Linked DNA regions of Homo sapiens: all the other regions are linked to region 1. The links come from fine-mapping of genetic effects on gene expression. A gene starts in region 1. Each other region holds a variant in brackets. All regions are shown on one strand. Distances are from middle to middle.

Region 1 (8,112 bases):
GATTCTAAATAAATTTTAATCACCAACTGGCAAAATGTCATTTGCTTATAACGAGCCCTTGCATTTTCCTCTGAAAAACTGAAAATACAACATATAGAGAGGGTAGGAAAGTCCCCGCCCATTACTGAGAAATTTTTCTAATAACCAGACTATGTATCTCACAGGAAGGAAAAAGTAGATTGTCTAAACATAGCCTAGTGATTTATTAGCATATTAATTTGCTTTGCCTTCCCTGTTGTAGGAGGGAGAGGGAGAAGAAAGGAGAGTATGGGTGAGGAAATGAGAGTGCAGTGGAGGGAAGAGAGAAAAAGGGAAAAAGAAAAGGAGAGAGAGAGAGAGAGGAAGAGAAGGCAAGAGGAGGGCATTAGAGAAAGAGGAGAGAAGGCAAGAAGAGGGAAAGAGGAGGGGGCAGCAGGAAAGGAAGGAGAGGGGAAGGAAGGACAGATAAGGGGAGAGGGAAGAAGAGAGGAGAGATAATTTTGTGTGTGCTCTGTTTTTTATATTTTCCCCTACCCATATAGAGAAGATGCTGTAGGTTCCTTGGCAGAAATTGCTTAAGGCAAATCTCATGACTGGCATTTGAGAAAGTTTTTGTTATGTTATATTGGTTATCCCCAAGGGGAAGTTTGGAAAGAGTGATTGGGTGTGCAAGGCCCCAGGGATATGGTGAGGGGAAAGGAGAGGCAGGAGGGCAGAGAGAAGGAAGCTAATCTGCCCCTCCCATCTGGGAACTTCCCAACACCCTGTGTAAAGAAGAAAGGAGAGTTCCAATAATGACTCAGAGTAAATTTTCCTCCTAAGAAGTCACATGTGAGCTCTGCGTTTTTATTTAATTAAGAAAAATAGCGTATTGTGAAATTTTCTGTTTACCCAAGTTTGAGACTGCAGTTTTTTTTATTAGTTCTTTCCTAACTTGTCTCTGTCTTTAATCTCATTACTCATTTCACATACTGAGCACCCAGCATTAGAGTGTTATGATCAGCCTGGTAGTGCAGCCTTGGATTCTTACATAAAGAGTTTGCTGATCTGAATTTAATTTAGTTAATGATCCAGCAAGCACCCATTTTAGTCTACTAAATGCTAGATACTGGCCTAACTATGGCGAAAATGCCCTGAAGAATAAGAATAAAGTTCATGGTTCAAGATTACCTTTTGAGAGGACAAAACTTTCCCATATTTCCAATAATCAATTTTTAGAAAATAAACTAGATCTTAATTAAAAAAAAACAAATTAACCAATTCAGTAGATATTTATTTAGCTCCATACATAGGTAGAGCTCTGAGGAGGATAAAATTAGTCTTTTCCTCTCGGAAACATATCATTTTATAAGCAGGATGCCATACCTGGAAATTAATAGACAACTCGGAATTGTACAACAGCTTATTCTGGCAACACTTTTTTTCTTCCTGTTTCCAAAAGGAAGGAATGGTATCTCACAGTGTTCTCTGTTTAACCTTGACTGCTGGCCCTGTAGCGGGTCTTGCTTTCACCCCTCCCCGCATGACTCGTTCTCTCATAATTCCCTTCTGTATTTAGCGGCCTATGTTATTATACAAGTTTTGCTCCCCATTACATCCCTGGCATTTCACTTTGTGCTTGGTACAGAGAATATGCTTAATACTTTTCTTGAATGAATGAAAGTGTCAACTGAAGAATGACAGGTTCATACATTTGGAAAGGAGAGCTTCATTTCACATAAAGGATTGCAGCCTGCAGGGTGATCATTCTGACCTCTGAAAAGTATAGCCTCTAATCAGAAGCTGGAAACAGACATTTTGAGGGAGGAGCAAAGGAAACAGAAATTTATGTTGAGCAGGGTAGCTGAATATATATATTCAATAAGCTATAGGGGAAGCCATGAATATTTGTGAAAGGAGAAATGTGCACATGCACAATGGAGTTTCATGCTTCTCCATGGGATCCGTGTTCAAAAAATGACAGCATTAATACAATCTGAGGGGGCAGTTTTCAGCCCAATGTGAAGCAGAGGACATGAAAACCTTTACTGCACATTCTCCATAGACTAGCCAGAAACATTCCATGATCAGTATTTTCTTTTTGTTCCAAACCACAAAAGAGAGGGATAACACCAGGTGATGGTTGATGTCATTGGTGTAATCTTTTGAAATGACTGGTTTCTTTTTAGCCATAGGGCAGAAAGCCTAATCATAGTTAGTGATGGAGCGGGTATGTGTTCCACTTCCTATCCTGTCATGGCCAAAAACTTAGTTTTCAAGTTTACTCTGGGATCCCCTTGGCCAAGAGCGTGTCCGTTCAGTTAATCTAGGGGCTTGGGATTTTATTTTTATTCCTCAAATGTAACAAATTTAAAGAAAGAAAGAAATTTATAAAACATAAGAAATAGAAGTATAGCTTAGACCTCCAAGCAAGTTCTTTAAAGGTGACAAGTTAAACAGTAGTTTTTAAGATAATATTTTGATGAAATTTTTAATCATATTATTACAAGATTTTAGAAGAAGCAAGATCTTGTGAAAACAAAACCTTAATGTCCATATCTAGCTCTCTAAATCTATAGTCAGTCTTTAAAAGAGTGACACAAAAATGACACAGATCCGCCCTCTGGTTCGCTCCCCATATATTAGAGCCTGGTAATCTTCCAAAGTTTTTACAGCATGAGGCATACACAGAATAGATGCAAAAAAAGTACACCTTCTGAAATTTCCTGAATGGATTCAAACTTTTACTATTCTAAGTTAATCAATTGGTAGTCTACTTACTTTATAGGATTATTGTAAGGATAGGATCAATGAAGTGAAATATATTTTATTTTCACTGGTCAATTACTCGTATTAAAGCAATTTCATGCACTTTATCTCCCTCTCTTGGAAACTGGAGAGTAGTACTTTTTGTCTGGTTACTTAAGATTAAAAAAAAGACAATATGTCACTTTTGACTTGAGTGTCATGGTATCTATGGCCTTCAACCTGCATGGTTTTATCGTTTCAGTAATCTTGGGAGGAAGGTATTATTAAGTTCATTTGATAAATAGGAGACTGAGCCTCCACAAGGGTTAAGTGAATTGCTCAGGGTTATACAATGAACACTTGATAGAAATGATTAAATGACACTTTACTTGATTTGTTGTGGGTTACTAAATAAAGCATAGGTGTGCATAAGTCATTCAATTATTCAAGCACATTCTTCATCCCTAGTCCTAATATCGAAAGTCTTTGCTCTTAGTTTTTATAACTACAAGGATATTCATCAAAAGACCCAAGCTCAGGAATAAGCCTAAAGAGGTAGTCAGACTAGAACAAAAGACAATTCACAGACTTAAATGAATAATTTGCATTAATGAAGTTTGCCAGGCTAGTTTCCACTTGAATCTTCAGATCTTTCTTCCTTCATTGTCTTGTTAACTGTCCAGATTTATTACCTAGGAGTTTTTGAAAACTCACATATTAGGCAATAGAGTGTATTCTGGAATTGAGAGCCTATTTTAAACTTTTGACTAAAAAGTTTACCCATTAAATGTCATAGATTCAACCATCAGACTGAAAATCCTCAGTGTATTTGAAGGAGGGTATTGTCTCAAAAATCCAGAGCTCAAAGTGAAGAAGAAAGGCAAAATTTGGAATTTAGCTCTAAGACCAACTCATCAGTTCAGGGGTCAGAGATTTATATAGTTAAAGGACAAGTGTGTGTTTACCTGAGTTTAAAGAGCAAAGTTGCCTCTGGAAAGAAGCCCTCACTGGAGGCTCTGGCATTTGAAATGGTGGGCAGGAGCACATGTTGCTTAAATTTCTGACAGTGGCTGGAGATTACCGATTGGTTAGGGGAGAGGAAGTAAAGTAAAATATTTATAAATTCTCCACTGGGTGGAGTCTGAGCAGTTCTTTGAATTTCTCACCCTAAGATCTGGCCTGTACATTTTCAAGGAATTCTTGAGAGGTTCTTGGAGAGATTCTGGGAGCCAAACACTCCATTGGGATCCTAGCTGGTAAGCTTGAGGCGCTGATAAAAACTCTCTACCCTAATGTTTACTCCATGTTTTTTCCAAATGAAACTTCTGTCAGCTAGAATCCTTGTCATAGTGTTTTAGAGGTTTTTTTCTGCTACTCTCTTCTTTTTTTATATATATTCTTTTTGTAAATAAAAATGGTATGACCTTCCTAAAGGCCCCACCTTTAGAAATGGGTTAAATGAAAAGATCTTTACTAATGTAATAGAAAAGAACTGATGAACATAGTGCACTGAATATGGTTACATTTGACAAACCAAAGTTAGTCCTGTTCTTATTTGAGTTTAAGCGGTAAGATTAGGTCAAACTCCAGACGAGGGAAAGATATTCTTAAACAGATTTTAAGTCCTCTGTTTTCTGGTAACTTTAATTGTCTTATGCTGCTAGTAGTCATATTAAATATTTATTTAGAGAAGTGAAAATGCCTACTCTTGAACAGAGTTTCTTCCCCTTTCATTTTATGAAACCTAAGAAAAGAAAGTTGATACACTTTTTAAAAATATACTAGATTTTCTTTTTTCCTTTCTGCTTTTATTTTGAGGCCAGTGGGGTGTTATTTAGTAGTAACACTGAAGCAAATGTATTGATTTTCTTAACGTGTTCAGCAAGTAATTCATATCCTAGATATGAAATATACACTCGTAGCAGAGTAATGTTACCCATTTCTCAATGATATGCTTAAAGAATCTTGCTCAATATGCATATTGTTTTTCCTTTTTTCTTTACTAATGAAAAACTACACGCTTTCTCAACATATTTTTAAGTCAGGTTCTAAACTTTGAACTCCTATGTACAATTTGCTTATTTCAGGCATGAATGTGAAACTGTGTAAAGATTAACTACCAGACACTCAGTCATTTATTTAACTATTTAGCCCTAAATCAGTGGGTGACTAGGAGATTCTGAATTCTGTGATTTCGTTAAAATCAATCAGTTTTTAATTATTATACAAGCTTTTTACTTTAAAGTTGTAGCTGTCTAAATAAAATTGTGAAAGCACAATTTCCAAACCTAAATCGAAGGCACATTGATGCTGTCCATCAGAAGGTATTGATAATTTAAAAAAATATTACAAACTATCTTTTATCTTTTTATAAAGGACCTAATGTCATTTGAGCTTAACCATAATCCTTTGAAGAAAGTAAAATTTAACTTTAAATAACATTGACATACAGAGCAGTTAGGTGATTTGTCTGAGACCATATGGTATGTATGTCCCCCGTCTTGATAAAATTAACACTAAATATGTAACATTTGAAAATTTGTAAAATATGTAAAAGTTGAAGTTTTTAAAAGTTTGGATTTAAGTTCTTCCTTTCAGAATATGAGCATGTCACTTTATTTGCAAACTAAACATGGCATAACATTATGGCTTGTGAACACTAATTGTCTTAGCTGCTGGGGTGAATGCAGAATTAAGCAGCAATTAGTATGAGTGAATAAATTGCATCCTTAGAGTGAGTGCACTATGCTATTCTGGGAACTAAAGACTATATTTGAGACCATGCGAAGTTGTGCAAGTGGTGGAGTAGGGCAGGGTGCAGTCATTTGGAAGACTATGCCCATCAGGTATCTCAAGGTACCCCAGATGTGACAGGCCCAGGAGCGGAACCAGCCACTTTAACTTTTGCCTGGCTGAAACTGGACTGGGAAGGATGGATTAAAAAGGTAAATCAATTCATACGTAGCTTGTGGTCCTTTGCAGCTTAAGTGTAGGACTGAAAAAAGAAGCCAAAGAAAAAGGGAATGAGCTGAAGAAATACACACACGTACACACACACATCAGGAAGCAACAGGCAAGGAAAAATAAAGTGAGAGGTTCAAGGCTTCGAGGAGGAATTGAGCTCTGTGCATTCCATTCATGGGCTTTGCCAAAGACCAGCACAATGGACTCAGCATCTCAGGCATGGTTAAGTACCCTACTGTGCACTCTGCTATCCTTTTAGTCCACTGGTTTCTACTCTGTCTGTGCCAGGTTTTCATCTCAATATAGAGGAAAAGGATTCTGATGCCTCAGGATTATTACAAGCATTAAATAAGATACAGATAGAATGACGCTAATGAGTATCATTTTTAAAATAAGGAAAGTTGAATTTTATTCAGAATCTGTTGGTAACAAACTAATCTCTTTATTTAAGTAACCCCACTTAGAGTTTAAAGTCACCTCCAATCAACTCAAAGGGCTGACCTCCCAAAGAAAGTCTCAAATATAAGGCAAGCTCTCTTGATTCTGAATTTCATTAGAAATGTTTGTCTAAGTCTTTCTCATATGGTCAGAATGAGAGAGGGTGCCCTTCTAGTAATATGTCATTATGTCAAATAATTCATCAACCAATTTTGTTTATTCTCTCGAACTGCCACTTTGGCGGCAGGGGTACTCTGTCTAAATGAGATGTCTATAAAGATAAATTAAACATGATTCAGGCCCCCAGGTAGAGTTCAGTTCAGTAGGGTAGAACAGCAACTCAGTCCAGCTACCATCAGTAATATGTTTGTAGTAAGACTAATCTGATAGTAAGGCAGAAAAACATCTCATGGAATTTTAGGAATAGCCAAGAAGATGGGTCCCCTGGAGACTTGCACATAGCATGTTGCATGAAGGATTCAGTGACTTGCAAGATGGGCTTGTCTTGTCACCTTTTCAGGAGACATAGCTGTTCAATCCCTTGCCATTGTGTAACTAAGTGACTCTTACTTGCTGCTGGAATCACTTCATGCTTTTCATGCTTTAACAATCAGTGGTTCTGTTTTACTTTGAAAAATGAGTCATTCTATGACAGTATTCCTCCTAGACCCTAGCATTTCATAGCTTCTATCTATGATTATTTTAAATTCTAGCTCCTGTATCTAACTGAATGAATAAGCACATCCCACAGCTCAGATTCCTGAAAGAATTTGATTATGTACTCAGCTAAACATCATCACTGTTTGGTTAGAGCTTTTATAGCAAATAATTCACAGATCTTTGATGAAACTACATTGTCTTTAGTGGGTAAGTGTCCAACAGAGGTCTAATAAACTATGACCAGGCAATTGATAATGCCAAGCGGTAGAGACACAGTGATCTCTCTTCAAAATGCAGTTTCCTTCATCAGAAAGCTATGTGTGGGGAGCCATTTAGAATCAAGTTTCAGGCATAGCAAATGTTTTTGATCTTTCCTATCCATACATATGTCCAAATAAATATAGTACCTGGCAGAATGTATTATTATCGTAAGTAAAGTACATAAGTGTGCTCTTAATTGTTATTGGTGTTCAGAGGAAGACGGGCTACTTTTGCCTGAGACATCCTAACAGGCCTCTTGAAAAAAGCATTGGAGCATTAGGTCTTTGAAGGTTGGCTAGAATCCAAACAAGTTGAAGGGGAGCAAAACATTTTAGGCAAAGGAAATGGCATGAGAAAAATCACAGAAATAGAAAATTTCATGTGGAGGACAAATAATACTTATGGTCAGATATTGAAAGCACCATCCATCAATGTTGAAATCCTACACTTTTGTACAGAACCATGGATTGAAGCAGTTAGGAGTCACAACTGATATCAAAGTAAAAAACATGCAATGGTGAACCTTGGTATCTTTGTCTAGGAATATAAAGAATGGCTTATCAGTGGAGACCATCGACAGTTGAGAAAAGAAGAAGCCCAAAAAGTACAAGAATGAAAATCGAGAGTGTAAGAAGAATGTCTGTTTTACTGGCATTATCTAACACTCAGATATGCAACTCTTTATTGCCAAACACTGTGTGTGTTAGTTAAGGTAAAAGGTGAAGGGAGGCAGAAGAATGGAGATTGAATTGAATTCTAGAGCTTTAGTTCTGTGTGAGTTTGGGCCCCCAGAAGTTCTAGACATTAAGTACAGTCTGAATTGAGAAATATTAAACATATCTTGTGATCCAATATTCCCCTAAGTTATACACTCAAATATCCAATGACCAGCTTGACATTTCTACCTGCATGTTCAATACTTATTTGAAACTTAATATATCCTAAATATAATTTTTTTTTAAACAGTCATGCTCTGTTGCCCAGGATGGAGTGCAGTGGCACAATTAGCTCACTGCAACCTCAGACTGCTGGTCTCCTACCCCATCCTCCTCGGTAGCTAGGACCACAGGTGCATGCCAGTGC
Region 2 (8,112 bases), 210 kb after region 1:
TTTTGTTTGTTTCTTTTTCCTGCTAGCCTGGAAAGCTTTGAAAAGAATGTATAGACAGGAAATTAGGGGAAATAGAGTAATCTCACTCCACACAAAACTTTCATCCAATCTACAATAATAAATTATTAATTAACTTAATGTTAAAAATGCAAACAAAAAATATTTTCTACTAGAAGCAATCCCTACCTGACATGCTCATAGGAGTAATTTGCCTACTTTAACCAAAACATTACTTCCTCCTCAATAGCTAAACATACTTTTTAGATTTCATGATTAACCAAAATGAGAATAATTTTTTATAAATGATCTCCTGTTTCATGGCCCTTAAATACCTAGTCCTACTTGATAAACATGAGTAGTCTGGCTTAACCACGTTCCAAAGCCTCATTTTGCTTCTGCTCATTATTTAGCAGCTTTGGTTACATACTTGCTTGTTGTATCTGGTTATAACCCTTTCTACTAATTGGAGAATGAGACACTTGCAACATATTTTAATATCCAGCCAGCATAAGCAATGTGGAAGTGTCTTCTCAGATCTATCATGAGCAAGAGGCCAAAGAGGAAAAAATAAAATTATCTGATAGTACCCACTATTGTTCCCCAACATCTGGGATGGATCCTACATGAGAATTAACTTCTGTTCCTTCCCCAAATTATCGTTCCTTCCTCAAGTTACCATCTGCTTCTGTTACTATAATTCACCGCCTCCTCAATTAAGCTTTGTTTTCTTCAACTTCTATCCTAGGTTGGGGAATTAATTTACTGCTGCTGCTATAACAAATTACTATAAATTTAGTGGCTTAGAACAACACACACTTATTATCTTACAGTTCTGCACGTTGGATGTCTAACATGGGCTTCACTGGGCTAATATCGGGGGGTTGACAGGGCTGAAATAGTTTCTGGAAGATCCAGAGAGGAATCCTTTTCCTTACCTCTTCCAGCTTCTAGAGGCTGCCCACATTTCTTGGCTCATGGCCCCTTTCTCCAGCCAGCAACATTGCATCTGTCTCATTATTGCTCTGGAGTCTCTCATCACAGTTGGGAAAGGTTCTCAGCTTTTAAGGAGCCATATGACTCGATAGACACACAGCGATAATTGAGATTGGGATAATGATATTTCCCAATCTCAAGGTTCTTAACCCTAGTCACACCTGCAAAGTCCCTTTTGCCATGTAAGGTAACATATTTATAGATTCTAGGGATTAGGGCATGGACATTCTGGAGGCCATTATATTGCCTACAATGGTTGGTTTCTGACCATTTCCTCTTTCTCTCCCCCTGAACCGGGGAACTAATTAGGAAATCATTTGCTAATATTAGCCTGTAACTGTCGGTGGATATTTCCAGTCTGATGTAAGCTTATGTAATGGGCAATATCTTCATGTTACTTATATTAACATTATTGCTTCTATTAAATAATAGATTAGTCCAATGTGATGTAAGGAGTTCAGTAGTGTGATTAGAATTTAGGATAGTCAGATGTTGAGCTTGAACGCTTTCTTAATTGGTGGCTGCTTTGGGGTCAACTATTGCGTCTGGAATTGGTGCGTTCTTGGTCTCACTGACTTCAAGAATGAAGCCGCGGACTTTCACGGTGAGTGTTACAGTTCTTAAAGGCAGTGTGTCCGGAGTTTGTTCCTTCTGATATTCAGATGTGTTCAGAGTTTCTTCCTTCTGGTGGGTTCCTGGTCTCACTGGCTCAGGAGTGAAGCTGCAGACCTTCGTGGTGAGTGTTACAGCTCATAAAGGCAGTGTGGACCCAAAGAGTGAGCAACAGCAAGATTTATTGCAAAGAGCAAAAGAACAAACCTTCCACAGTGTGGAAGGGGACCCCAGCGGGTTGCCACTGCTGGCTGGGGCAGCCTGCTTTTATTCTCTTATCTGGCCCCACCCACATCCTGCTGATTGGTCCATTTTACAGAGAGCCGAGTGGTCTGTTTTGACGGGGCACTGATTGGTGCCTTTACAATCCCTGAGCTAGACACAAAGGTTCTCCACGTCCCCACTAGATTAGCTAGATACAGAGCTTCGATTGGTGCATTCACAAACCCTGAGCTAGACACAGGGTGCTGATTGGTGTGTTTACAAATCTTGAGCTAGATACAGAGTGCCGATTGGTGTATTTACAATCCCCTAGCTAGACATAAAGGTTCTCCAAGTCCCCACCAGTCAGGAGCCCAGCTGGCTTCACCCAGTGGATCCTGCACTGGGGTCACAGGTGGAGCTGCCTGCCAGTCCCGTGCCTTGGGCCCGCACTCCTCAGCCCTTGGGTGGTCGATGGGACTGGGTGCGGTGGAGCACAGGGTGGCACTTGTAGGGGAGGCTCCAGCTGCACAGGAGCCCACTCGGGGGGTGTGGGGGGAGTGGTGCGGGGGTGAGAGGCAGTGTGGGACCCACCAAGCCCATGCCCACCTGGAACTCCAGCTGACCCGCAAGTGCTGCACGCAGCCCCGGTTCCCGCTGGCGCCTCTCCCTCCACACCTCCCTGTAAGTTGAGGGAGCCAGCTCTGGCCTTGGCCAGCCCAGAAAGGGGCTCCCACAGTGCAGCGGCAGGCTGAAGGGCTCCTCAAGTGCCGCCAAAGTGGGAGCCCAGGCAGAGGAGGCGCCCAGAGCCAGTGAGGGCTGTGAGGGCTGCCAGCACACTGTCACCTCTCACTATGATGGTAATATTTTTTTACCCTCTGCAGGAAGGTTGTTTCCTAGAGTCTAACGACCTGTCCCTCTTTAGATTAACAGTTAAACTTACAGGGAGATTATGTAATTCTGTGGGAAAGTTTAAAGTTGAACTAAGATTCTGTCTTGGAAAACCAGCTATCACCAGGCTTGGTAGGCTTGTCACCCCTACTCATGAATCTTCCCCCTATTTTGCCACATAGTTGGGTGTGCTCTTTCAGCTGTTCTTGAGTAGCTTGTCTGGTTTGGGGAGACTTGGCTTTGGTTATCTATGTAAAGTTATTTCTAGTTAATACATTATGCAGAAGGTATAAGGGTTGGTCTTTGCTTTTTTATGCTTGTCTTAGTTTTTTCATCTTTCCCTTATGGTACTATGTCTATTGCACAAGGTAAAAATATCTATCACCTATACTTCTGTTTAGGTAAGTGATTTAATTAAGATAATTTGATAATATTTTTAGAGAAGTTTGGGTCTAGAATTGGCTCAAAGAGATCAAGTTGTGATGAAATCTTGTGGTGTAAGCCAGATGCTTTGGGTTAAGTTACACACTTTGATTTTTCCAAGCACACTTTCCAGTATGCTTACCATGTTACAACTTATGTCGTCTATATATGGGTAGAGAGCTTTAGTAGTATTTGTTTCTAGAATAATATTTGAGGATGGTTATGGGTGGCGTGTGTGTGCTTCATGACCCTATTCAACCAAGCACTCAGCTCTTGGTTTACTGCTAAATCCTCTTTGAGCCCTTAGATTTCATAAAGGCTATCATGAGATTTTCTGGGTAAAGAAAATATAGCCTCATAGGCTACACCTTGACCTAACATTTTTATGTGTATACTTGTGCTTACTTTGCAACCTTTCTAGGGTTTGCTGAAGATGGTGGCATATAGGCTGGGGGCAAGAGGTGGTGAGGTGCATCGGGGTTTATCAATTATAGAACAG[G/C]CTCCTCTAGATGGATATAAAGCACTGCCAAGTCCTTTGAGTTTTAACCTGTTGCTTGTAGTATTCTGGTAAATTGTTTTGTTAATTTAACTATTATAGTTTAGGGCTAAGCATAGTTGGGTATCTAATCCCAGTTTGGGTCTTAGTTATTGTGTTTTCAGGATATTAAAGCCACTTTTGTAGTTTATTTTATTTCAGCTGGAGTTTTTTTACAACTTAGATGGAGTTTATCTTTATTGAGGGTAGATCTTAAACACTCTTTATGCCAAGATCTATTAGCTTGGGTTAATCATATAACCACAGTGGCTAGCACGAAATTGACCAACCCTAAGTATTAGTAGAGCTTTTAAACTTTTGCTTATTGCTAAAGATTTATCACTGCTGTTTCCTGTGGGGGTGTGATTGAACAAAGTATTTTGAGGTGCATTTGTGTGTGCTTGATACTTGCTCCTTTTGATTCAGGTGATCTAGAGGGCATCTTCACTGGGATGGGGATGCTTGCATGTGTAATCTTACTAAGAGTTAACAGAAAGACCAGGACCAAACCTTTATGTTTATGGGGTCGTGCAGACCCATCTAGACATTTTCAGTGTCTTGCTTGGAATAATTAAGCTACATTAACTGCATAAATGTTTGAGTATAAAATTAAAATATAAGGGGAAGAAATAGTCATTTACAATTATGGTAATTTAAGTGGTTTAACTTGAATTGGCAGAAGTTTGATTGAGAGGGGTTTTACATTAGGGGTAATTGTTTTAGGCTGTTGTTTATGGGTAGCACTTTCAGAGGGTTATGTTCAAGGTATTATATTAGTACAAGGGTGAAAATTTAGTTATTATATTTGTTATATAAGTAGAGGCTTAATTTAGTAGAAAGATTTTTAAGATTTTTGGGAAACACATCAATCAAAGGGCACCTGTTGGGGTATTCATGATTAAAATATGACTTTTGGACTCTAACTGGGTTTTAGTCTCTTGTTTTTGGGGTTTGGCAAGGGTACACTTACCTAGGTTGATGGTAAAGTCAGGGGTGGGGGAGGGGGAGTTTGTGGATTAAGTTGAAAATAGTTCTTGAAAATAGGCGTACATGATCGTGCCTACATGATCATGCATACGTGATCGTGCATACTTGTCTATTGGTTACTCATTATGTCCTTTAAGCATGAATTAATTAACATCTTATGGTTGTTATGCCAGGTCAGAATATTAAATATAAGCTCAGTTTCTACAACTGGTTTGGCAGAAATCAAATCCGAGTTTGTCTACAGTGATTCAGAGGGGACCAGGCCTTTCGCGATGGTAATAGCATCCCCCAAAGTTAAAAATACCAAATGCATGACAGTGCTCCCCTGACTGGCTAATAGGGTGATAGTCACTAGTCCATTGAGATGTCTTATTTAAGAGGAACGTGTGGTCGATCTTAGTTTTATGGCCCTGAGGTAAGAACCAGATGCCAGGTATAGTTTCAGTATAGTCACCCCCAAGTGTTATGGGCCCGGAGCGAGGAAGGTAGTACTCCCGAGTGGGATGATGATTTCTCGGAGGTTGGTAGATTAAGAGACCAAAATTTGGGAGGGGATATTCATGTTGACAAGGACTTTTTTGACTGAAATGTGCTATGTTCGATGAAAATTTTATGTACTATGTAATATTAAGGATTTTTAGTATGGGTCGATATTCGTATTGACTGGATTTTGTTGTACGATTAATGATAGTGAATGTGCAATAGTTGGAGAGTCATTAATACATGCTTATATGCTTATATGTATGTGGATTGTATTTTTAATGTACCTTGATGTATTAATGTACTATGTACAGTTAAGCAATTATAGTACAACATATTATTCATGGGGGCTAGCAGTAATGCACGAAGTACATAAGAGCACTAATGTGTTAGTGCTAGTTCATTAATACTGGCATGGTAGTTAAAGTGTGTGCTGAAAAAAGTGCAAGGAATAGTTTAATCAGAATTTCAGCTTTGGGTGTTGATGGTGAAGTGGGTATACTTTTTTTCCTGAGTTGTACTGGGGAGGAAATTCTCCATTTCTGGTTTACAAGACCAGAGTATTGAATTATATTACAAGGGCAGTTTCATTTAAGTAGCTTGTTTTCAATTAGGGCAATGATTAGTATAAGGGTGAGGACGGTAAAGAAGTACATAATGGATGCTGTCTGTCTGATGATAATAAAAGGGTAGTTGACTCACTGCCCTCCGATTCATGTGAGTGTGAGCAGGTCAGCACTAAGATTCAGAATAGGCATCGACTTAATGGACAGAATACTATGTTTTGTTGTTTAGATGTGTGAAGTATAGGAATAACTGCTAGAATGAGAATGGAGGATGTAAGGGCGAGCATACCTCCTAGTTTGTTAGGGATGGAAAAGTATCACTCTGGTTTAATGTGGGGTGGGGTATTGAGGGTGTTGGCTAAAGTGTAATTATCCAGGTGGCTCAGGAGATCAGGTGAAAATAGTACTAGGACTATTAGGAGGAGGAGGGGGAGAGTTAGGCCTAGAATATATTTGATTACGTAGTAAGGTTGGAAAGTGATTTTGTCAGGGTCTGATGAGATCCCTGAAGGTTATTATATCCTGTTTCACGTAAGAATAAAAGGAAAACAGTTGTTAGAGCTGCAATGATGAAGGGAAAGATAAAACGGAAGGCTAAAAGTTGTGTAAGCGTGGCTTTGTCAACTGAGAATCCACCTCAGATTCATTATACAAGGTCAGTTTCCATATATGGGATTGCTGATAGTAGATTTGTAATTATTGTAGCACCTCAGAATGATATTTGGCCTCATGGGAGTATGTAACCTATAAATGCTGTTGCTGTGGTTGTGAGTAGGAGGATAATGCCAATATTTCAGGTTTTTAGAAATATAAATGACCCATAATATAAACCTCGGCCAACATGTAGGAAGAGGCAGATGAAAAATATTGAAGCGCCGTTAGCATGAAAATAGCAGATTATTCAGTCATAATTTACATCTCGGCTGATATTGGTGACTGAAGAGAAGGCAGTTAAGGTATCCGATGTGTAGTGTACGGCCAGAAATCATTCTCTGATGATTTGGAGAATTAAGCAGGCACCAATAAGTGAGCCAAAGTTTCATCATGTAGAAATGCTGGATGCTGTGGGAAGATCAATGAATTAATGGTTAATAATTTTTATTAGCGGGTGTGTTTTGCGTATTTTGGTCATTAGCATTCTTACAGTTGAAATACAATGATTTTTTTATACCATTAGTTATGATTATAGTCCGTGTAGGAATAATGGCATATATTTTATTCGTATTAAGTATTCTTTTTCTTATAGGATTTGTAGGTTTTTCTTCGAAACCATCTATTTATGGAGATCTAGGGATGATTATTAGTGGTGCTGTGGGTTGTGGTATTGTGTTGAACTTTGATGGGGCTTTTGTGGGGTTAATAGTGTTTTAAATTTATTTGGGTGGTATAATGGTTGTTTTTTATTATACTGCGGCAATGGCTACTGAGGAATACCCTGAAACATGAGGGTCAACTATTGACATTTGAGGGGCTTTATTATTAGGGTTATTAATAGGGTTGGTGTTGATTCAGTGAATAGTTGAGCATGATGGGATGGTCATCACAATTAATTTTAATAGTATGTGGAGTTGAATAATTTTTGAGGGTGAGGGGGTGGGGTTATTGCATGAGGATTCTGTCAGTGTGGCTGCTTTGTAAAGTTATGGATGTTGATTGCTGGTAGTTGCTGGTTGAACATTGTTTGTTAGTATTTGTGTTGCAAATGAGATTATTCGGGGTAATAGATTAGATAATTTAGAGTTAGAAGGAGTAAAATAAAAAAGGAGAGAAAGTAAAGTTTAATTAGGCCTTTTTGAGTAGATACAGTAATGGTGGCTGATATTTGGGTTTGTGAAATGGTTTTTGGTGTGGACTTTTCTAATCAAATTAGGTCTAGTAGAAGTGAGGCCAGATTTTGGCTTGTAAATAGACTTGAGGTGGGGGGTTGTATGGTGGATTGTGGCTAGTAAAAACCTAATATATTGGAGAAGTTAAATGTCTGTAATGGATAATTTAGCTTAAGGTTGTTAGTTATAAAATTTAGCTCCATTGCTAGTAAGAGGCCTAAGGCAGTCACACCTAGGGCTGTGAGTTTTAGGTGAAGTGGCATAGTTTTTTGGGGGGATGAAGTAGGAGTAATACTATTGGTAATGAGGAATCCAGCTAAGATGCTGCCAATTATTAGATGCTTAATTGAGTTAATTAGGAAGGGGTTATTTTCGTTAATATGAATCAGAGTTGTGAAGTGAGGTTGTCCTATCAGAGCAAAGAAAATAATTCAGGTACTACAGACAGCTGTTAGGGAGGTTACAATAAGAGTAATAGAAAGGGCTCAGGTGTTGGAATATGACATGTTTGCGATTTCGATAATGAGGTCTTTAGAATAAAAGCCTGTGAGGAAAGGCACACCTGTAAGTGTGAGGCTGCCAATAATAAGGGCGGAGG
Region 3 (8,112 bases), 160 kb after region 1:
ATGTGGCTTGGTCAGGTGCCATCAACATAGAGTGCCTGAAACACTGGGCATGGAGGACAGGAGGAAATTTGGGGCTTGGAGTCAGATCCAGAAAGACCTGGGTGTTAATCACACTTTGCTGCTTAATAGTTTTTTGATCCTGCACAAGTTATATCATCTTGTGTCATTGTTTTTTCTTTCCCACTTATCTAATGTGAATAATAAAATCTATTTAAAGATTTGGTTTTAGGGTTAGTCAAGCTCAAAACAATAAGCCAAGTAGGACACAGCAGTACCTTAATAAATACTCATTTTCACTCCTCTTTTTTCCTATTTTCCTTTTGTGGCTTTTGCCATGTACCAAAGAGTGTAGCAATTCCTGTGAGCAGTTAACCCCAGCAGATAGAAGTGAAACTCTACCATGCAGAGCTTCCTTTTCCTGCATGACCTCATTTCTCAATCACATGGGATGCAGAAAGATCATACGTGCTTTGAGAGTTCAACATAAACTTGATCCTTCAGATTGCTTTAAACCCTGAGATACTGTTTTAAATTTGTTTTCATTTTTTATTGACTTTATTTTTTTGTTTTTGAAACAAGGTCTTGTTCTGTCACCTAGGCCGGAGTACAGTGGTGCGATCAGGCTCAGTTCAGCCTTGATATTCCTGGCTCAAGCAATCTTCTCGCCTTAGCTTCCTAAGTAGCTGGGACTAGAGGTGTGCACCACCATGACTGGATGATGATGATGATGCTGATTATTATTATTATTATTTAGTGGAGATGAGGTCTTGCTATGTTGTCCAAGCTGGCCTGAGATAATATTTTATATATATAGGTGCTCTTTGACTTACAATGGGGTTATTTCCTGATAAGCCCATCATAAGCTGAAAATATCATAAGTAAAAAATGCATTTAATACACCTAATCTATAGAACATCATAGCTTAGCCTAGCCTACCTTAAAACACATTCAAAACACTTACATAGCCTAGAGTTGGGCAAAACCATCTAACACAAATCCTATTTTATAATAAAGCATTGAATATATTATATGATTTATTGAATACTATACTAAAAGTGGAAAACACAATGGGCGTATGGGTAGTCGAAGTATGGCTTCTACTTAAGATGTACTGCTTTTGTATCACTGTAAAATTGAACAATTTTAAGTCAAACCATTGTTAAGTCAGGGACCATTGGTATGCAGATTTGTAGCAACCAAATTGCAAAATGGGATATTCCAGTCAAGTCAGGATACCTGTATTTTACCTTGGCTGCTAAAATAATTAGATCTGTTATTATACCAGTTATTTAAATTCTTTGAGATGGGTTTTCTTATTTGGAAATAAAGGAATTGAATTTGATCAGGGGTAGCAAACTTTTTCTGTGAAAGGCCAGATAGGAAATATTTTAAGCTTTCTAGGCTATACAGTCTCTGTGGCAAATACTCAATTCCGTCATTGTGGTGGTAAAGCAGCCATAGGTGATACATAAGTGAAAGATTGTGGCTATGTTTTCATAAAACTGTATTTTAAAAAGCAGGGCCTGGCACGAAGACTCACGCCTGTAATCCCAGCACTTTGGGAGGCAAGGCAGATGGATCAATTGATCACAGGAGTTTGAGACCAGCCTGGGTGACATAGTGAGACCTTGTCTCTATAAAAACTACAGAAATTAGCCAGGAGTGGTGGTATGCATCTGTAGTCCCAGCTACTTGGGAGCCTGAGGCGGGAAGATCACCTGAGCCCGGGGAGGTCAAGGCTGCAGTGAGCCATGATTGAGCCACTGCACTCAGGCCTGGGTAACAGAGTGATACTCTGTCTCAAAAACAAAAACAAAACTAGTGGGTCAAATTTGGCCCACAGGCCATATGGCCATATATTAGTCTGTTTTCACACTGCTATAAAGATACCACCTGAGACTCAGTAATTTGAAAAGGAAAGAATTTTAATTGACTCACAGTTTCACATGGCTGGGGAAGTCTCAGGAAACTTACAATCATGTCAGAAGGCAAAGGGAAAGCAAGGCACATATGAGGTGATGGGAGGTGAGAGAGAGAGAGAAAGAGAGAGAGTGCATAAAAACTGCTGTTTTTGGCCGGGCGTGGTGGCTCACGCCTGTAATCCCAGCACTTTGGGAGGCCAAGGCGGGCGGATCACGAGGTCAGGAGATCGAGACCACCCTGGCTAACACTGTGAAACCCCATCTCTACTAAAAATACAAAAAAATTAGCTGGGCGTGGTGACAGGCACCCGTAGTCCCAGCTACTCGGAAAGCTGAGGCAGGAGAATGGCGTGAACCCGTGAGGCGGAGGTTTCAGTGAGCCAAGATCGCGCCACTGCATTCCAGCCTGGGCAACAGAGCGAGACTCCATCTCAAAAACAAAAACAAAAAAAAAAAACAAAACAAAAAAAACTGCTGTTTTTAAAACCATCAGATCTTGTGAGAACTCCTTCACTATCATGAGAACGGCATGCAGGAAACTGCCCCCATGATCCATTCACCTCCCATCAGGTCCCACCCTCGACATATGGGGATTACAATTCAAGATGAGATTTGGGTGGGGACTCAGAGCCAAACCATATCACCATAGTTTGCTTAATCCTGGATTTGATAACTATAAAAAAGTCATCAAGTTTTAACATTCTTTTAGTCAGTCATAGTGTTAACTTATCTCTGACTAGCTATCTTAACCCTATTGAATTTAACTTGCTACAGTTCAATCTGCTTAATTCTAATTAGTAGAGCATCTGTTATTAATTTACCTTTTTTATATACTTAGGCAGATCTTTTTTTTAAAGCTCCCTCTATTGTGTGTGTGTGTGTGTGTGTGTGTGTGTGTCTGTGTGTGTTCTGTAAGAGAAACCACTTGACCTAACAATCCTAGAGCTAAAAGTCAGCTTCATAGGTCATTTCATTCATATTTCTGCCTTTGGGAGACATTACAATTACATGCCACTAAAAGCTGATGCTCTCTCTCATTGACATGGTTTCATAATAGAATAGCAAATGTTGAGCAGAATAAGGAATCCTGGCTTGGGAATAGGAAGGCAGAGAATGAGATCCAGAAAAACTTCCAGAAGAGGTCATTTTTACCTTGGGTCTAAGATTTCTGGTGTTCTGCTAAGAAGTTGGGGACAAGGGAGGTGGGAACTGCTGGTAAACGGGAAATAACGTCGATATTTTAGTTCCATGGAGCTTATCTTAAATATCTCAGAAATCCTACTTAGGAAGAAAAGTTTAAGTCTTGCTCTTTTACTCTCCAGTACTCTAGTATCTTTATGGACACTTTTAAAGTTACCTTCTATGATAATGACATGATA[T/C]TAATTTCTCAGAACTGCAGTTAATCCCTGGGGTCTGTGGATTCCGAATTTCAAATCCTCCCATTTTGTTGGTCTGTTCCTTGCATGCTAGTTTAGAGGTAAGTGATGTGTGTTTCAACCTTCCCACATCTTTGCGTTTTTTCTTGATCTGTTTGTGACAATTCATAGTACTTTCTCTGCTACACAGCAAGATGATACATGTGCACTGTGCATGAACAAGGGACAGAAGGCAGCATTCCCCTTTAGGACAGTGATGATGTGGTGAGGGTCTCCCTTCATTCATGTCACCAGCCCCCAGCACAATGCTTGGCACATTGTTGGCACATAGTAAATATTAAATGGAACTCTTTTGGGGAGATACGTTTTTTACTCCACTTAGAATCTGTTTAAACATGAATAAGTTATTTAACCTTCTCTTGGCCTCTCTTTATACCAAATAAGCATGCAATATTTAGTTCTTCATAAATTCGCTCATTCAACATAAATTTATTGAGAAAATATTGTGTGCCTGATGTGATTACTAGGGACTGTACTTTTTCTAGTTCATTGTAGGTGAATGAACTGACCAAGTACCATGTGACAAAGCTAGGAAAGACTTACTTGAAGGAAAAAAGAATAATCAGAGTAAACCAAAGATTAAATAAGGTTGTCTCATAAGGTAGGGTGGTTTTATGATTTTTTTAAATTGGGACTTCTATGCCATTATGTCCATTTATAGTCTCCACTATCACTGACTCAATATTTTCCTTTAAATTAATTTATATTTTTATTTAGGTAAATTTAGTCTCACCCTGAAATGATAAATATACATAACAAGAAAATGAAATTGTGATTCCTTAGATACTATTATTTAGTGTTAGACTAAATGTGGCCAAGTAAAAATATATAGGTTATATAGTATAAAATTCATATATAATGTAAATGTATAAATATTTACATAAATAATGTAAATATATAAAGTAATTGTATATTTTGTATACCTATATTTAAGTAAAATATATTTTAAGTAAATGTGCATATATATTTCTAATAGAAGTTTTACATAGAACTATTCAAACAAGGATTTGAAATTTTTTCATGTCTCCTTCTAAAATCATGTAGTTTATGATATTTTGGCAAAAACTTATAGAGGATTTCAGCATCAAATGAGTGACAGGATGAAGATTCAAAATTCCTTCTAATCTAAAATTGCATAATTCTGTGAACACTTACAGCAGTTTCTCATTCTGGCCACTGGATGGCAGCATCAAGTTCCTCTGTTTTTATTAAATTTCACCACTGGATAGTGATCATCACCTCATTTCATTCTGTCTCAATTTAAAGCGCACCTACTCAGTTTAACCACTAGATGGAGCTTGTGTTGTTTTCACTTCATGGCAGAATTTTTCTTTAACTTGGAAAATAGACACAGTAACGAGATTTTTCAGCCAGTGATATATATTTTTGACAGTTTTTTGAGTAAAAATCTGCTTAGTAAATCAGATAATGATATTTGAGTTGTTTTTATAGTATCCATTCAGATAAATATTTTGTTTAAACATTTTAAAACAAAATAAAGTTTCTGCATTCCTTGCAAGTTTGTATCAGCGAGATGTGTGACAATATCAGAAGCACCAGGACATACCTTAGGAAGAGCTTGTACCTAAAGTAATTTCCTCTGGTGCCCATATCTTTGCAAATAACTTCTCAGACGTACCTGGAAATTTCCTTTTAGACGCCTTCACTTTGGCATACTTTCTGCAGTGGACTGGCTTTTCTAGTAGTATTCACCCTTCTCTTGTGGGAAAGGAAGCACATTCCTATTCTTCCAGCCACTGTTTTCCTACCACACTGTATTAGAGTCACCTAGACAAAGTTTTTATTTTCAGTTATAATCTGAGAACTGATTTATTTTTTCTTTTTAATATCTAAACTTAAACCTCAGCCTCCTGAGTAGCTGGGACTACAGGTGTGCACCGCTACACCAGGCTAATTTTTGTAGTTTTTTGTACAGATAAAGTCTTACTATGTTACCCAGTCAATATCTAAACTTAAAACCCTAAAAGCCACAAGAAGAATGATATGCATTTCTCTGGATCTTCTAATCACTTACATATTTCCCTTGAGCCTCTTTCTGCTCATTTCACTGCTGAGACTATGTTCTAACCAAAATTATCTTTAGTTAATCAAGCCTTATGTTGGTAAAAGTGTTTTTTCAAAATTCTTTCCTACTGTAAATTGCAAAATTTTTGAATTACAAACTAATGCATTGAATTGCTTCCCTTTCTCTGTTAAAATGTCTTATTTTCTAGACATTTATGGGTTTCTCATGTGAGTAAACATCAGTGAATTAACTATGCTTCTATTAATACTTACCTTCCTTTAAGTTTTATTTATTTATATTTAGAGATGAGGTCTTGCTCTGTTGTTCAGACTGGAATGCAATAGTACGATCATGGCTTAGCATGGCCTCAAACTCCTGGGGTTCAAGTGATCCTCCTGCCCCCACCTTCCAGGTAACTGGGACTGCAGGACTGCACCACCACACTTGGCTGATTATTATTATTTATTTATTTTATTTCTTTATTTTTGAGACAGGGTCCCCTTCTGTCACTCCTAGAGTGCAGTGATGGGATCTCAGCTCACTGCAACCTCTGCCTCCTGGACTCAGTTGATCTTCCCACCTCAGCCTCCACAGCAGCTGGGACTACAAGAGTGCACCACCATGCCCGACTAATTTTTGTATTTTTTTATAGAGACAGGATTTTGCCATGTTGCCCAGGCTGATCTTGAACTACTGGCTGCAAGTGGTCCTCCTGAGTAGCTAAGACTACAGGGCATGCCACTGTGCTCAGCTTATTTTTAAATTTTTTTAGAGATGAGGTCTGGCTATGTTGTCCACGTTAATCTGGAACTCCTGGCCTCAAGCGATTCTCCTGCCTCAGTCTCCTGTTTGAAATGTTTGTTTTTCAGTGCTATAAAGAAATAGCACTTGAACGCAAATTTAATTTATTTAGTAAGGCCATTTTTACTTCCTGCAGAGAGGATACACTCGCCAGCAGTTTTGCCATGAGAGTACACCGAACAAAGGAGACAGGGTCATTTATAACCTGACGTGTCCACCCTACTGCTGTGTCCAGTTCCAATGGCTGGAATGGGACCTCCCATTCTGTATTTGTCCCGATTGGCTAGTAACTTAGAACTTTTTAAAAGACGTAAAGGTAGAGGGTAACAAAGGAAGGAGGAAGTAACTTGTGGAATGCTAAGAAAGGTAAAAACACTTTTAAATAAGGAAGAGGAACAGGCTGTGACCTAATGCTGCTTGGACCAGTATAAGCATGCCAGGGCAAATATTTAGGCTAAATTGTGGGAGCTAAAAACATAAAGTATATTGATTTATTTATTACAGCTAGCAGATATTTAAGAATGTTAGCACAGGTCTTTGAATAAATTTTGCTTCTAAGAGAAGTTACTATTTATTCCTAATTAGACGGGAAGGAAAGTCTTTGAAGAGGAACCTCTACTTTACTTTTTATACTCCTAAGCAGTTGGGATGACAGACGTGAACCACTGCACTCAGCCACCTTATCTTTTTAAACCAGTTTATTCCATTTTAGGAGATAGGTGGTTGAAGTTTCAATAAACGAAAGAAGTAAATGCATGAATCAAACTGCCTCTTTGTTGTCTCTACTTTTAAGAAATATTCAACACAGTCAAATACGAACTGGAGGAGAGATTCTATACTTAAGAATCAATCACATATAAATAAGACCTTAGATTTTTAATGCAATGACTTTTTAAAAAGATATTAATATGGCTTTTTTTAATAAATACATGTGTATATGGTTGATTGATATAAAAAATAGCACATTGTAATCAGTTTCAAACTGTCCTTTTGTTTATATTTTTTTATCTGAATCATTTATACAATAGTTCTTAAAATATTGTGGATCAAGGGATGAAGCCTGAGGCCAGGAACCTGGTGGCAAGTACTCTCTCCCTCAATGGACACGAAGTGTGACCTTACACAAGCAACAACTCCCTTTGGATGTATTTGCCTTATTTTTTAAAGTAAGATGTTTGGACAAGATTATTTTGGAAGTCTCCTCACTTTCCAAAATACTTAAATTTAAACAATACGTATATTATATTTTGAGGGTTCATATTTATGTGTAGCGATAGGTAGACAATATTTAGTCCCTTTCAGTATTCTGAATTCATAATGAAATAAATGGCTTCAAAATACAAAGTTAGAGCATTCAATTAAAATACATGGCGAGTCAGAAGACTCAACAAAGAAATGTACTATACGTTTCCTTTCAAATTTCCTAGAGAGACAGTTTTAAGAATTTAAGAGAAAAATATGACAATTGAAAACATCACACCAAACTTATTTTTCCTGTTTAAACTTATCTAGCTTTTCAAGCTTTGTGTTCATTTTGTCAGTAAGAAAAAAAATACAAGTAGTTGAAACTCTGCAAAGTATTATCTTCTAAGCTGAATATTTTTCAAACCACAGTTTTCATTTTTTCTAATTTAAAAAAATTATTTTCTCAATATTGAAAGCATAACATTTATGAGAAGCAAAAAAGAAAATAGAATATTTATGTTACTTCCCTATTATTCTCTCTCAATATTTTTATGTGAAGCTCAGAATAGACTTTTACCCTCTGTGAGATGAATTTAAAAGTGCCTCAGAATGCAGTTGCCCTTATTGTGGTTGTAATGGAGAAAGTAAGTTTTATATTTAAAAGTTATTTTATGATTTAAAGAGTGTTAACATTCCACAGTATATTAAGATGGAAGCTATTTGTCATACCAAAAAAATTGGT
Region 4 (8,112 bases), 690 kb before region 1:
TGGAGTCCAGGTATTTCCTGTTTGTTTAGGTGCTGCCACTAACTCACCCCGGAGTTTGTGCAAGGTCACTGGGTATTTAAGCACTTCAGTTTTCTTATCTGTAATGAGGTGGGAGTGATTGATGATCTTTAATGCCCTTTATAGCTATAAAATTACAGACTTATTATTTTTTTTTTGAGACAGAGTTTCGCTATTGTTGCCCAGGCTGGAGTGCAGTGGCATAGTCTCGGCTCACTGCAACCTCCGCCTCCCAGGTTCAAGCGATTCTCATGCCTCAATCTCCCAAGTCGCTGGGATTACAGGTGCCTGCCACCACACTCGGCTAATTTTTGTATTTTTAGTAGAGACAGGGTTTCACCATGTTGGCCAGGCTGGTCTCCAGGGAGACTAAACTTACATTATAACTTCAAAACAAGCAAGAGTGCCAGAGACCAGCAGGGGCTCCCAGCAGTTAGAGGAAACAGTAAATGATTAGTCATTTCCTCTGTTTATGATGCTGTGTCTGCTCAGCTCCATTCAGTGGAAAACAACAGTTGTACCTAGGGACTCATGGTACGTAAGGGGTCAGAAGGAAAAGTCTAGGCAACCACTCTTCACTCCAGACCTTTGAGTAAGACATCCCAAGAGAGACGGTGAAAAGAAACATGGCTCCTTTGCCCCCCAAAATAAAATTAGGCTGGTGATGCTTGATTTCTCTGGATTTATTTCTGTAAGTATCTCTCTTATGTGTTGCAATGAAACTTGTAATGTCCCCATATAGGCATTAATTAAACCATACTATAATTGCCTCTTTTTTCCAATAAGACTGAACTATGTAGGATATGATTTTGTTTTGCCTTGTCCACAATACCTAGCACAATTCTTGACTTGTGACAGGAACTGTATCTATCCTGATATATACATTTATATCTACAGATATTACATATATATTCTAAATTAATATAGATGTATATCCTAAATTGACATATATAAATAATATATATATTTCCTAAATTAGAATTTTTTTACTTTTTATTGACACATTGTAATTACATATTTATGGGGCACAATTTGATATTTTGATACACATATATGTTGTAAAATATTAAAATCAGGGTATTTAGCATGTTCATCACCTCATGCTATCATCCTTTCTTTGTGGTGAGAACATTCAAAAGCCTCTCTTCTAGCTATTTTGAAATACACAGTACCTTACTGTTAAGCATTGTCACCCTACTGTGCAATAGAACACAATAACTTATTCTTCCTATCTTATTGTGACTTTGTACTTGTTGATCAATCTCTCTCCATTTTCCCTTCCCTCCTCTTACCCAGTCTCTGATAAGCACTGTTTTATTCTCTGCTTCTATGATATTAACGTTCCCCCCTCTTTTTTTTTAAGATTTCACATATGAATGATACCATGTGGTATTTGTTTTTCTGTGCCTGGCTTATTTCACTTAACATTATATTCTCCAGATTCATCCATGTTGTTGCAAGTGACAGGATTTAATTCTTTTTTATAGCTGAATAATATTCCATTGTGTATCTAGACCACCTTTTATTTACCCGTGACTCATTGTTGGACACTTAGGTCGATTCTATACTTTGGCATTTGTGAATACCACTGCAGTAAACATGTAATAAACATTTTTAAATGATTCTGTAACCCACCTCATTAGTTGGTGATAAGTTTTCTTTTCAAATTTCCCTGAAAAGTTTTATTTTGTATATGACAAAAATCAATCCATAAAGTAAAAAACAAAACAAAACAAACAAAAACTCTTAAATTATAATTTCATGTATGCTTAATATAAATTCCAGAAAATGTTTCTGAAAGCCATCTACCAAGTAATAATCAACCCAACAACAAAGTTTAAAAAAATTCACTGAATTCTATTGAGTGTCTCTGGGTTTCTATTTAATGTAACTCAAAAACTGTTAGTTTAAAAAGAAAAGTCTGCAGTTAGAAGAGGCAAAAAGTACATTAAAAGCTGTCTCTAATTATTACCTAAGTAGATAAAACTGAGCTCCTTCTGTGATCAAATATAAACTAGGAAAGGTAAAATTAGTTGTGTTACCCTACCCAGGATTACACAACCATAAAACAAACAACCAATTAACCAATTTATCATACATCAAATCAATTACCTGTGGGAGAGAATGATTAAGTGTTTCTACAAGAAAAATGTAAAATCATGAAATTATTGACTATTAGCTCTTGGCAAGAATTTATAATCATCATATAGTCAAGTGAATATAAAAACATGTTTTAGGCTGGGCACTATGGCTCATGCCTATAATCCCAGCACTTTGGGAGGCCAAGGTGGGCAGATCACCTGAGGTCAGGAGTACAAGACCCTGCCTGGCCAACAGCGTGAAACCCCGTCTCTACTAAAAACACAAAAATTAGCCTGGCATGGTGGTGGGCACCTGTAATCCCAGCTACTCGGGAGGCTGAGGCAGGAGAATTGCTTGAACGTAGGAGGTGGATGTTGCAGTGAGCCGAGATCATGCCATTGTACTCCAGCCTGGGTGACAGAGCGAGACTCCATCTCAAAATAAAACAAAACAAAACAAACAAACAAACAAACAGAAAACAACAACAAAACAACGTTTTAACACTGAATTATTTTTTCTTTTTTAATTAAATGTTCCTGTTACTGAATGATTGTTTGGTTGACTAAAAATGCTCCAATTTTCAAATTTATTTTCTTATTTTTGTATTATTACTCAAAGGTATATTGAACTGCCAAATAGATGGGTTTTAATCCCTCTTCTATACTCCTGTATCACCTGGGACATATGTCTGCTAAAGTCCTGAAGACACTTAATAATTTTTGGTTTACTTGCGTGTTTATCCACACAAGCTTTTTGAGCAAAGCTGTGTTTTCTACATCTCTGTATTCTTAGCATCTAGGTAATCTGGCCATCTATGTGCTCAATAAAAATTGAAATTGAAAATAAAATAAAATAGATGTTAAACACAATTATAGGAGGCCATTGTCTTGGACTGAGCTCTTGCACTGCGATCTTGCACCAGACCCCATCAGACCAGATCAAACCAAAATGGAGTCACTCATGCTAAATGTCACATAAGCAAACTGCAACTTTTAGGAAGCAAATAGATCCCAAACAGCACAGTTTTTCCTGAGAACAGCAGATTCCAGTCTACATGACTCAGCATCATAAGGAAGATCCCTCTGTTTTAACCCTTACCAAAAACTAACTCAAGTAACCTAGTGTTAACCAATCAACTATTTTCCTTTGTTCTGTTTCTTTCTCACCTTACAAAATCCACTCTTCTGTGATTTCCCAGTGAGAGTTCACATTCTGTTTTGTAGGATGTAGCTGTCTTGATTCATAAATTGCAAATAAAATCCAATTCGATCCATAACTAAATTTGTTATAATTTTATCTTTTAATATGAGGTTAGCACACATAATTCACTATAATTCCAAATTAAAACAAACATAATTACCATTTTAGTAAATTTAGGCATATATATATATATATATACACACACACAAACGTACACATGATTCCACTAGACTAATAGTCCTTAAATTATGCTGTGTATGAGGATTACCCATGGAGTTGAATAAACATATAAATTTCTAGTACTTGCTAAGGTATTCTGACTTAGTAAGACCAAAGTACAGCCAAAAAAGTTGAATTTTTTAAGGAAACATCTTAAGTTATCAATATATTAACCATGTTTAGGAAATACCACAGTAGACTTCTTAATATGTTGAAGTAGCTCATAGACGCACAGTGTTACTTTCACGAGAGCGTACCCCAATTGGGAGCCACTAATCTAAGCCAACCCAGAGATAAAGCAACCAGAATGAAAAGAGTTCCTAAAAAGTAAGAGGCAGAGTCCAATTTTAAAATCTGGTAGCAACACTTGAGTTCCTAGAGGATAAACCCAAAGATGCATACAATGAGTAATTCAACTTTAAGCCTCCCATTTTAAGATTATGAGAAGATCCTTATTTATACAAAGAATAAATGTCTTAGGTTAGATGGAAGAATGTCATTGCTGTGTAGAAGA[T/A]GAAATATGTGTGGAAGAATGCATGTAGTCATTGAAAAGCAAATAAATGCACTGTGGTAGATATAGGTCCAAAACTGCCTTTCCTACACCTCTGGGGCCTGATGAACTTCAGAATTCAGAGTGTTTCAGATTTTAAAAAGGTACTATAATGCAAATACCTTTAGAAGAAAATGAACGTGGAACTGGCCTACAGTTTATTCCCTCTATCATTAAGGATGGAGGATTTGGGGAAATCATCAAGACAAAAAACTGTCAAATCTTCTTGTAAACATATGAATTATGAATGTCTTTGGTAACACGCTAATGGCATTTGTTTGTGTTAGAATAATCATTTATGCAATACTTTCACTATGATGAACCTGGTTGTCTACGATTGATTATGGTACATAAATCTAGAATATATAGATTTATTGGTAAAGTTCCCTGGACGATATCACATAAGCGATTTAGCTTATTTTACATTAGACATGTTTTATAATTTAAATGTATAACTGCACACATGTTTAAAGGATATGACAACCTAGGTCCAGAATATATAAAATGGTAAGAAAAGAAGTAAGTAGCTACATTGGAGCTCCCAGACAACTCTCTGATTTTCCTTTGCCTTGCATTCCTTCTATTATTGAAGTTATTAGTAAAGATTGGTGTCAGGTAAGATGATATTGGTTAAGATTTCCAGTGCATGTAAGTCTGATTTGACAATCTGATATTTGACATTCTGATACTTGGTGTAATTTCTACTGTATAGTTCATAACACCCTCAGAGGGTCAGGTCACCTTGTATTCAAATAACTTGATATTTATGCAGAGAATCATATAAATATTCACATGTAGTAGGATAAATGAAGATAAAACACAGCCTCACAATCAGCTCAGAAAGATTTTAATATCAAATTAGTGCATATCAGTGCAATTTACAAAGTAAGTTATTTTTAAAAAATCTTTTAGATTCAGAGTTGTTTTCTTTAACATTTTGGGGCAAGGGGTAAAAGTTTAAGGAACACTACTTGGCCTAGCTCTCTCAATCTCTCTATTACACTTTCCTTTTACTTTGCCCATATTCCCTTCTAGCTAACAGTTGTATGCAAACTTTCGAGTCAGAAGCAAAGCAGTGGCCTTATTCCTGTTGGTGACTGCAGCAAAGCAATGTCAGACAGAAGAGAGGGTTGGCATGCTTACACTCTGCATGCCAATGCAAGACATCAGCTCTAGGGGTTTGAAAGCCTGTGGCAGTGATATCTAAGCCAGCAGCAGTAGAGCTTCCTGACCTCTACATCACAGCTATGGCAGTATGACCTTGAAATTAGTAGTCCGGTTGTAACTCCCCTGATTCCAACTCCTCCAGCTCCTCTGATTTTTGAAACCCTTAATCAGTAAATCTCTCCCTGCTTGAATTCCAAGAGTGCTTTCTGTTTCCTGGTCTGAATCATGACTGATACAGCATTTGGTAGCAGTGATTTGAGAAATGCAGCTTTTCAAAACATTATATCCTGAGCATATGTATTTTATGACAATTTGTGATGCAGTTTGTTTGAATCTTAAGCGTAAATAGAGGTACCACTCTCCACCCAAGGAAAGCTATTGGCAGCATAAGTAGGTACAAATGTCTTTCTTTTCCTTACAATTCATTATCTTTTAACTTACTTTCATATGTGGATCATGCTGTGGGAAACAAATACGATCATTATCAGTAACAAATAAAATCTTCTTTATGAAAGAGATTTTTTTCCTATGCCTGGCAATTTTTTCTTATTATATGCTCTTCTGCTTATATAGTTGCATTTCCTTGGATAGCTTTAAGGTTACTATAAACAGATATCTCACTGATAATGACAATGGCAGCCTTGAAATTCCAAGCCATTTCTAGCAATTCATCTTGAAGCAGCATTTTAGTTCTCTTTTCGTTGATTATCTTCATGTTATACTATTAGGTCCAGGGGCTTAGTCATTTTTTTATTACTTTGACTAGAAAATAGACACTTAGATATTTGTAAAAAGTTCTATATTGTTGAATTATGGCAAGTACACTATCCACCCAAGCAATGCAAATTACAACCATGTGCACTGTTTCTTATTTTTGCAATGTTATAGGAGAGCTGACTTATTTTTCACCTACTAATGAATGGTACCCTCAAGGATCTGGAAACAGTTAACATATTTTTTTTTAATTTTAAAATACAAAACTTGAGGAAATAATAGGTACATGGTAGAGTGTTACATTTGTTAAAATTGAAGAACGGGTATAACCTAGTATAGTGGCTGTTTTCAAACTCCCTACTACCCTCCTACTCCTGGTAGAACTAGTCTTCTGGAAACATCTTGGAGAAAAAGACATAGTATAAGAATCTGAGAGACTTACAGTAAAGGTAAGTATATTCTTAAAACTGAAATAACACCAAATATATTCATTTGTGTTTTAATTAATGTTCCATTTTCATTTTGGAATTCTTTTAGGTCATGTCTTTTTTATTGGTTGGGAGAACAAGAGTTCAGAAAATGTTAGTATTGTAAGATATTTTAACAGTTGCCATTTAATTGATATAGGAGAGTAATTACTTTTCCTCCCATAAAACATTAATGTAAAAATGAAAAAGGAAAAAGTATATATCTCAGAGAAATTAAGAACATGGGTTTTTAAAACATTTTTCCTTGAATCTTAATGTTAACTCTAAAGCTATCTTGAACATTTCAATAGTAATTTTCTCTTAAAATAAAAACATCAAGAAACTAATATCTAATTCAAGTAAAAAGACAGTTAATCAAAACTCAGAACAGGGTTGCTGTACTGACAAGCTACAGAGAGCTTTCAGATCTCAAGGTATCCCAGTAAAAATCACATTCCCATTTGATTTTTATATTTTTGGTTTGGCACACATAAAGGGAGTTTATGTCCATTGTACATGATCTACGTAGTTCATTCAAAAAGTTCTAGCAAAATAGAAGTATAAATTACCATTTGCCTTATCAATATAATAAAATAAAATTGTTATTGGATTACAGATTGTTTATAGCTGGCTATTTTATATTGTTTATAATATTTCATGGGCTAAAAATGATTAAGTGATGACTACATTCCATTTATTTTATTTTATTTTATTTTTATTTTTATTTTTTACCCAAGACTCAACAAAATAGTTCTTGGTTAAGCTTTTGGATTTTTGCCAATTGTATTGGTAAAAGATGGTATCTTGGTATAGTTTTAGTTTGCATTTTTAAAATTATAAGTGATGTCAACCATCTTTTTAAAATATTTTTAATGGCATTAGCATTTATTTTTATTTATATATATTTTTATTATACTTTAAGTTCTAGGGTACATGTGCACAACGTGCAGTTTTGCTATATATGTATACATGTGCCATGTTGGTGTGCTGCACCCATTAACTCATCATTTACATTAGGTATATATCCTAATGCTATCCCTGCCCCCTTCCTACATTCCATTTATTTTGGGAGAAAGATTTACAATATTATTAGAGTTTTTTTTTTTTTAACCCCTGCCTTTTTTTTTTAACTATTATTTGCTAGGCTGACATAAACAATTTTATACAAAGTTTACTCTCTTATATAATATTATACAGGGATTATGCATTGGCTTTAAACACTGAATTTGTGCAGAATTTTAGGGACCAACTTAATGTGATAAGCTTTCTTGAGGGGATTGACTTTGCATAATATGGTTCTTTTTTGGTCTTGCACCATTTTGTAAATTGTGGGTTCAGAAACAGGTCCAAATTAAAAGTGAAGCCTAGTAGTATATTTTAATGAGTGTGTGGACTGAATGTTATCAACTTAGGATGCAGACATTTTAGTTAGGGAGTAGTTCTATTTTACTTGATCTCTTGGCTGATAATTTCATTTTATTCAAGGACAATCTTAGGACACTATAAACAATATATAGTAGTAAATGTATGCTCCTTAATCCCTCCAATCCCTGATACTCATTATTCCTTGTCCTTGTTTGTTTTATACAGGGTGCATATGATCATCTGGCACAGTATTTTTAAATATAGTTTCTCATTTATTTTGTTATTTGTTGATTGTTGAGTGTCCAGTTGACTACAATTAGAATGCAACCT

Which allele goes with the higher level. Positions count from the first base shown, and alleles are read on the strand shown. Sizes are in standard deviations (SD) of each study's normalised expression. Not every link is listed here.
With allele A in place of T in region 4, the expression in coronary artery of the gene that starts at base 3,890 in region 1 is lower (large effect, 0.84 SD a copy in GTEx).

The links. PIP is the estimated chance that this variant, and not a neighbour inherited with it, causes the effect.
Region 2: its variant is fine-mapped to the expression of KYNU in whole blood (TOPMed, PIP above 0.99).
Region 3: its variant is fine-mapped to the expression of KYNU in whole blood (INTERVAL, PIP above 0.99).
Region 4: its variant is fine-mapped to the expression of KYNU in coronary artery (GTEx, PIP above 0.99).

Annotation. Positions count from the first base shown.
Region 1 is chr2:142,873,775-142,881,886 of GRCh38, forward strand. KYNU (kynureninase) reads left to right here and starts at 3,890. Exons shown (of 14, transcript NM_003937.3): 1 at 3,890-3,962.
Region 2 is chr2:143,087,342-143,095,453 of GRCh38, forward strand. It overlaps the pseudogene MTCYBP11, the pseudogene MTND6P11 and the pseudogene MTND5P24. Among named protein-coding and RNA genes, the nearest start is that of ARHGAP15, 38 kb to the right of the region's middle. The variant G/C (reference allele first, on the strand shown) is at 3,620.
Region 3 is chr2:143,029,923-143,038,034 of GRCh38, forward strand. KYNU (kynureninase) reads left to right here. Exons shown (of 14, transcript NM_003937.3): 12 at 3,314-3,399. Among named protein-coding and RNA genes, the nearest start is that of ARHGAP15, 95 kb to the right of the region's middle. The variant T/C (reference allele first, on the strand shown) is at 3,302.
Region 4 is chr2:142,185,671-142,193,782 of GRCh38, forward strand. No RefSeq gene overlaps it. Among named protein-coding and RNA genes, the nearest start is that of LRP1B, 59 kb to the left of the region's middle. The variant T/A (reference allele first, on the strand shown) is at 4,034.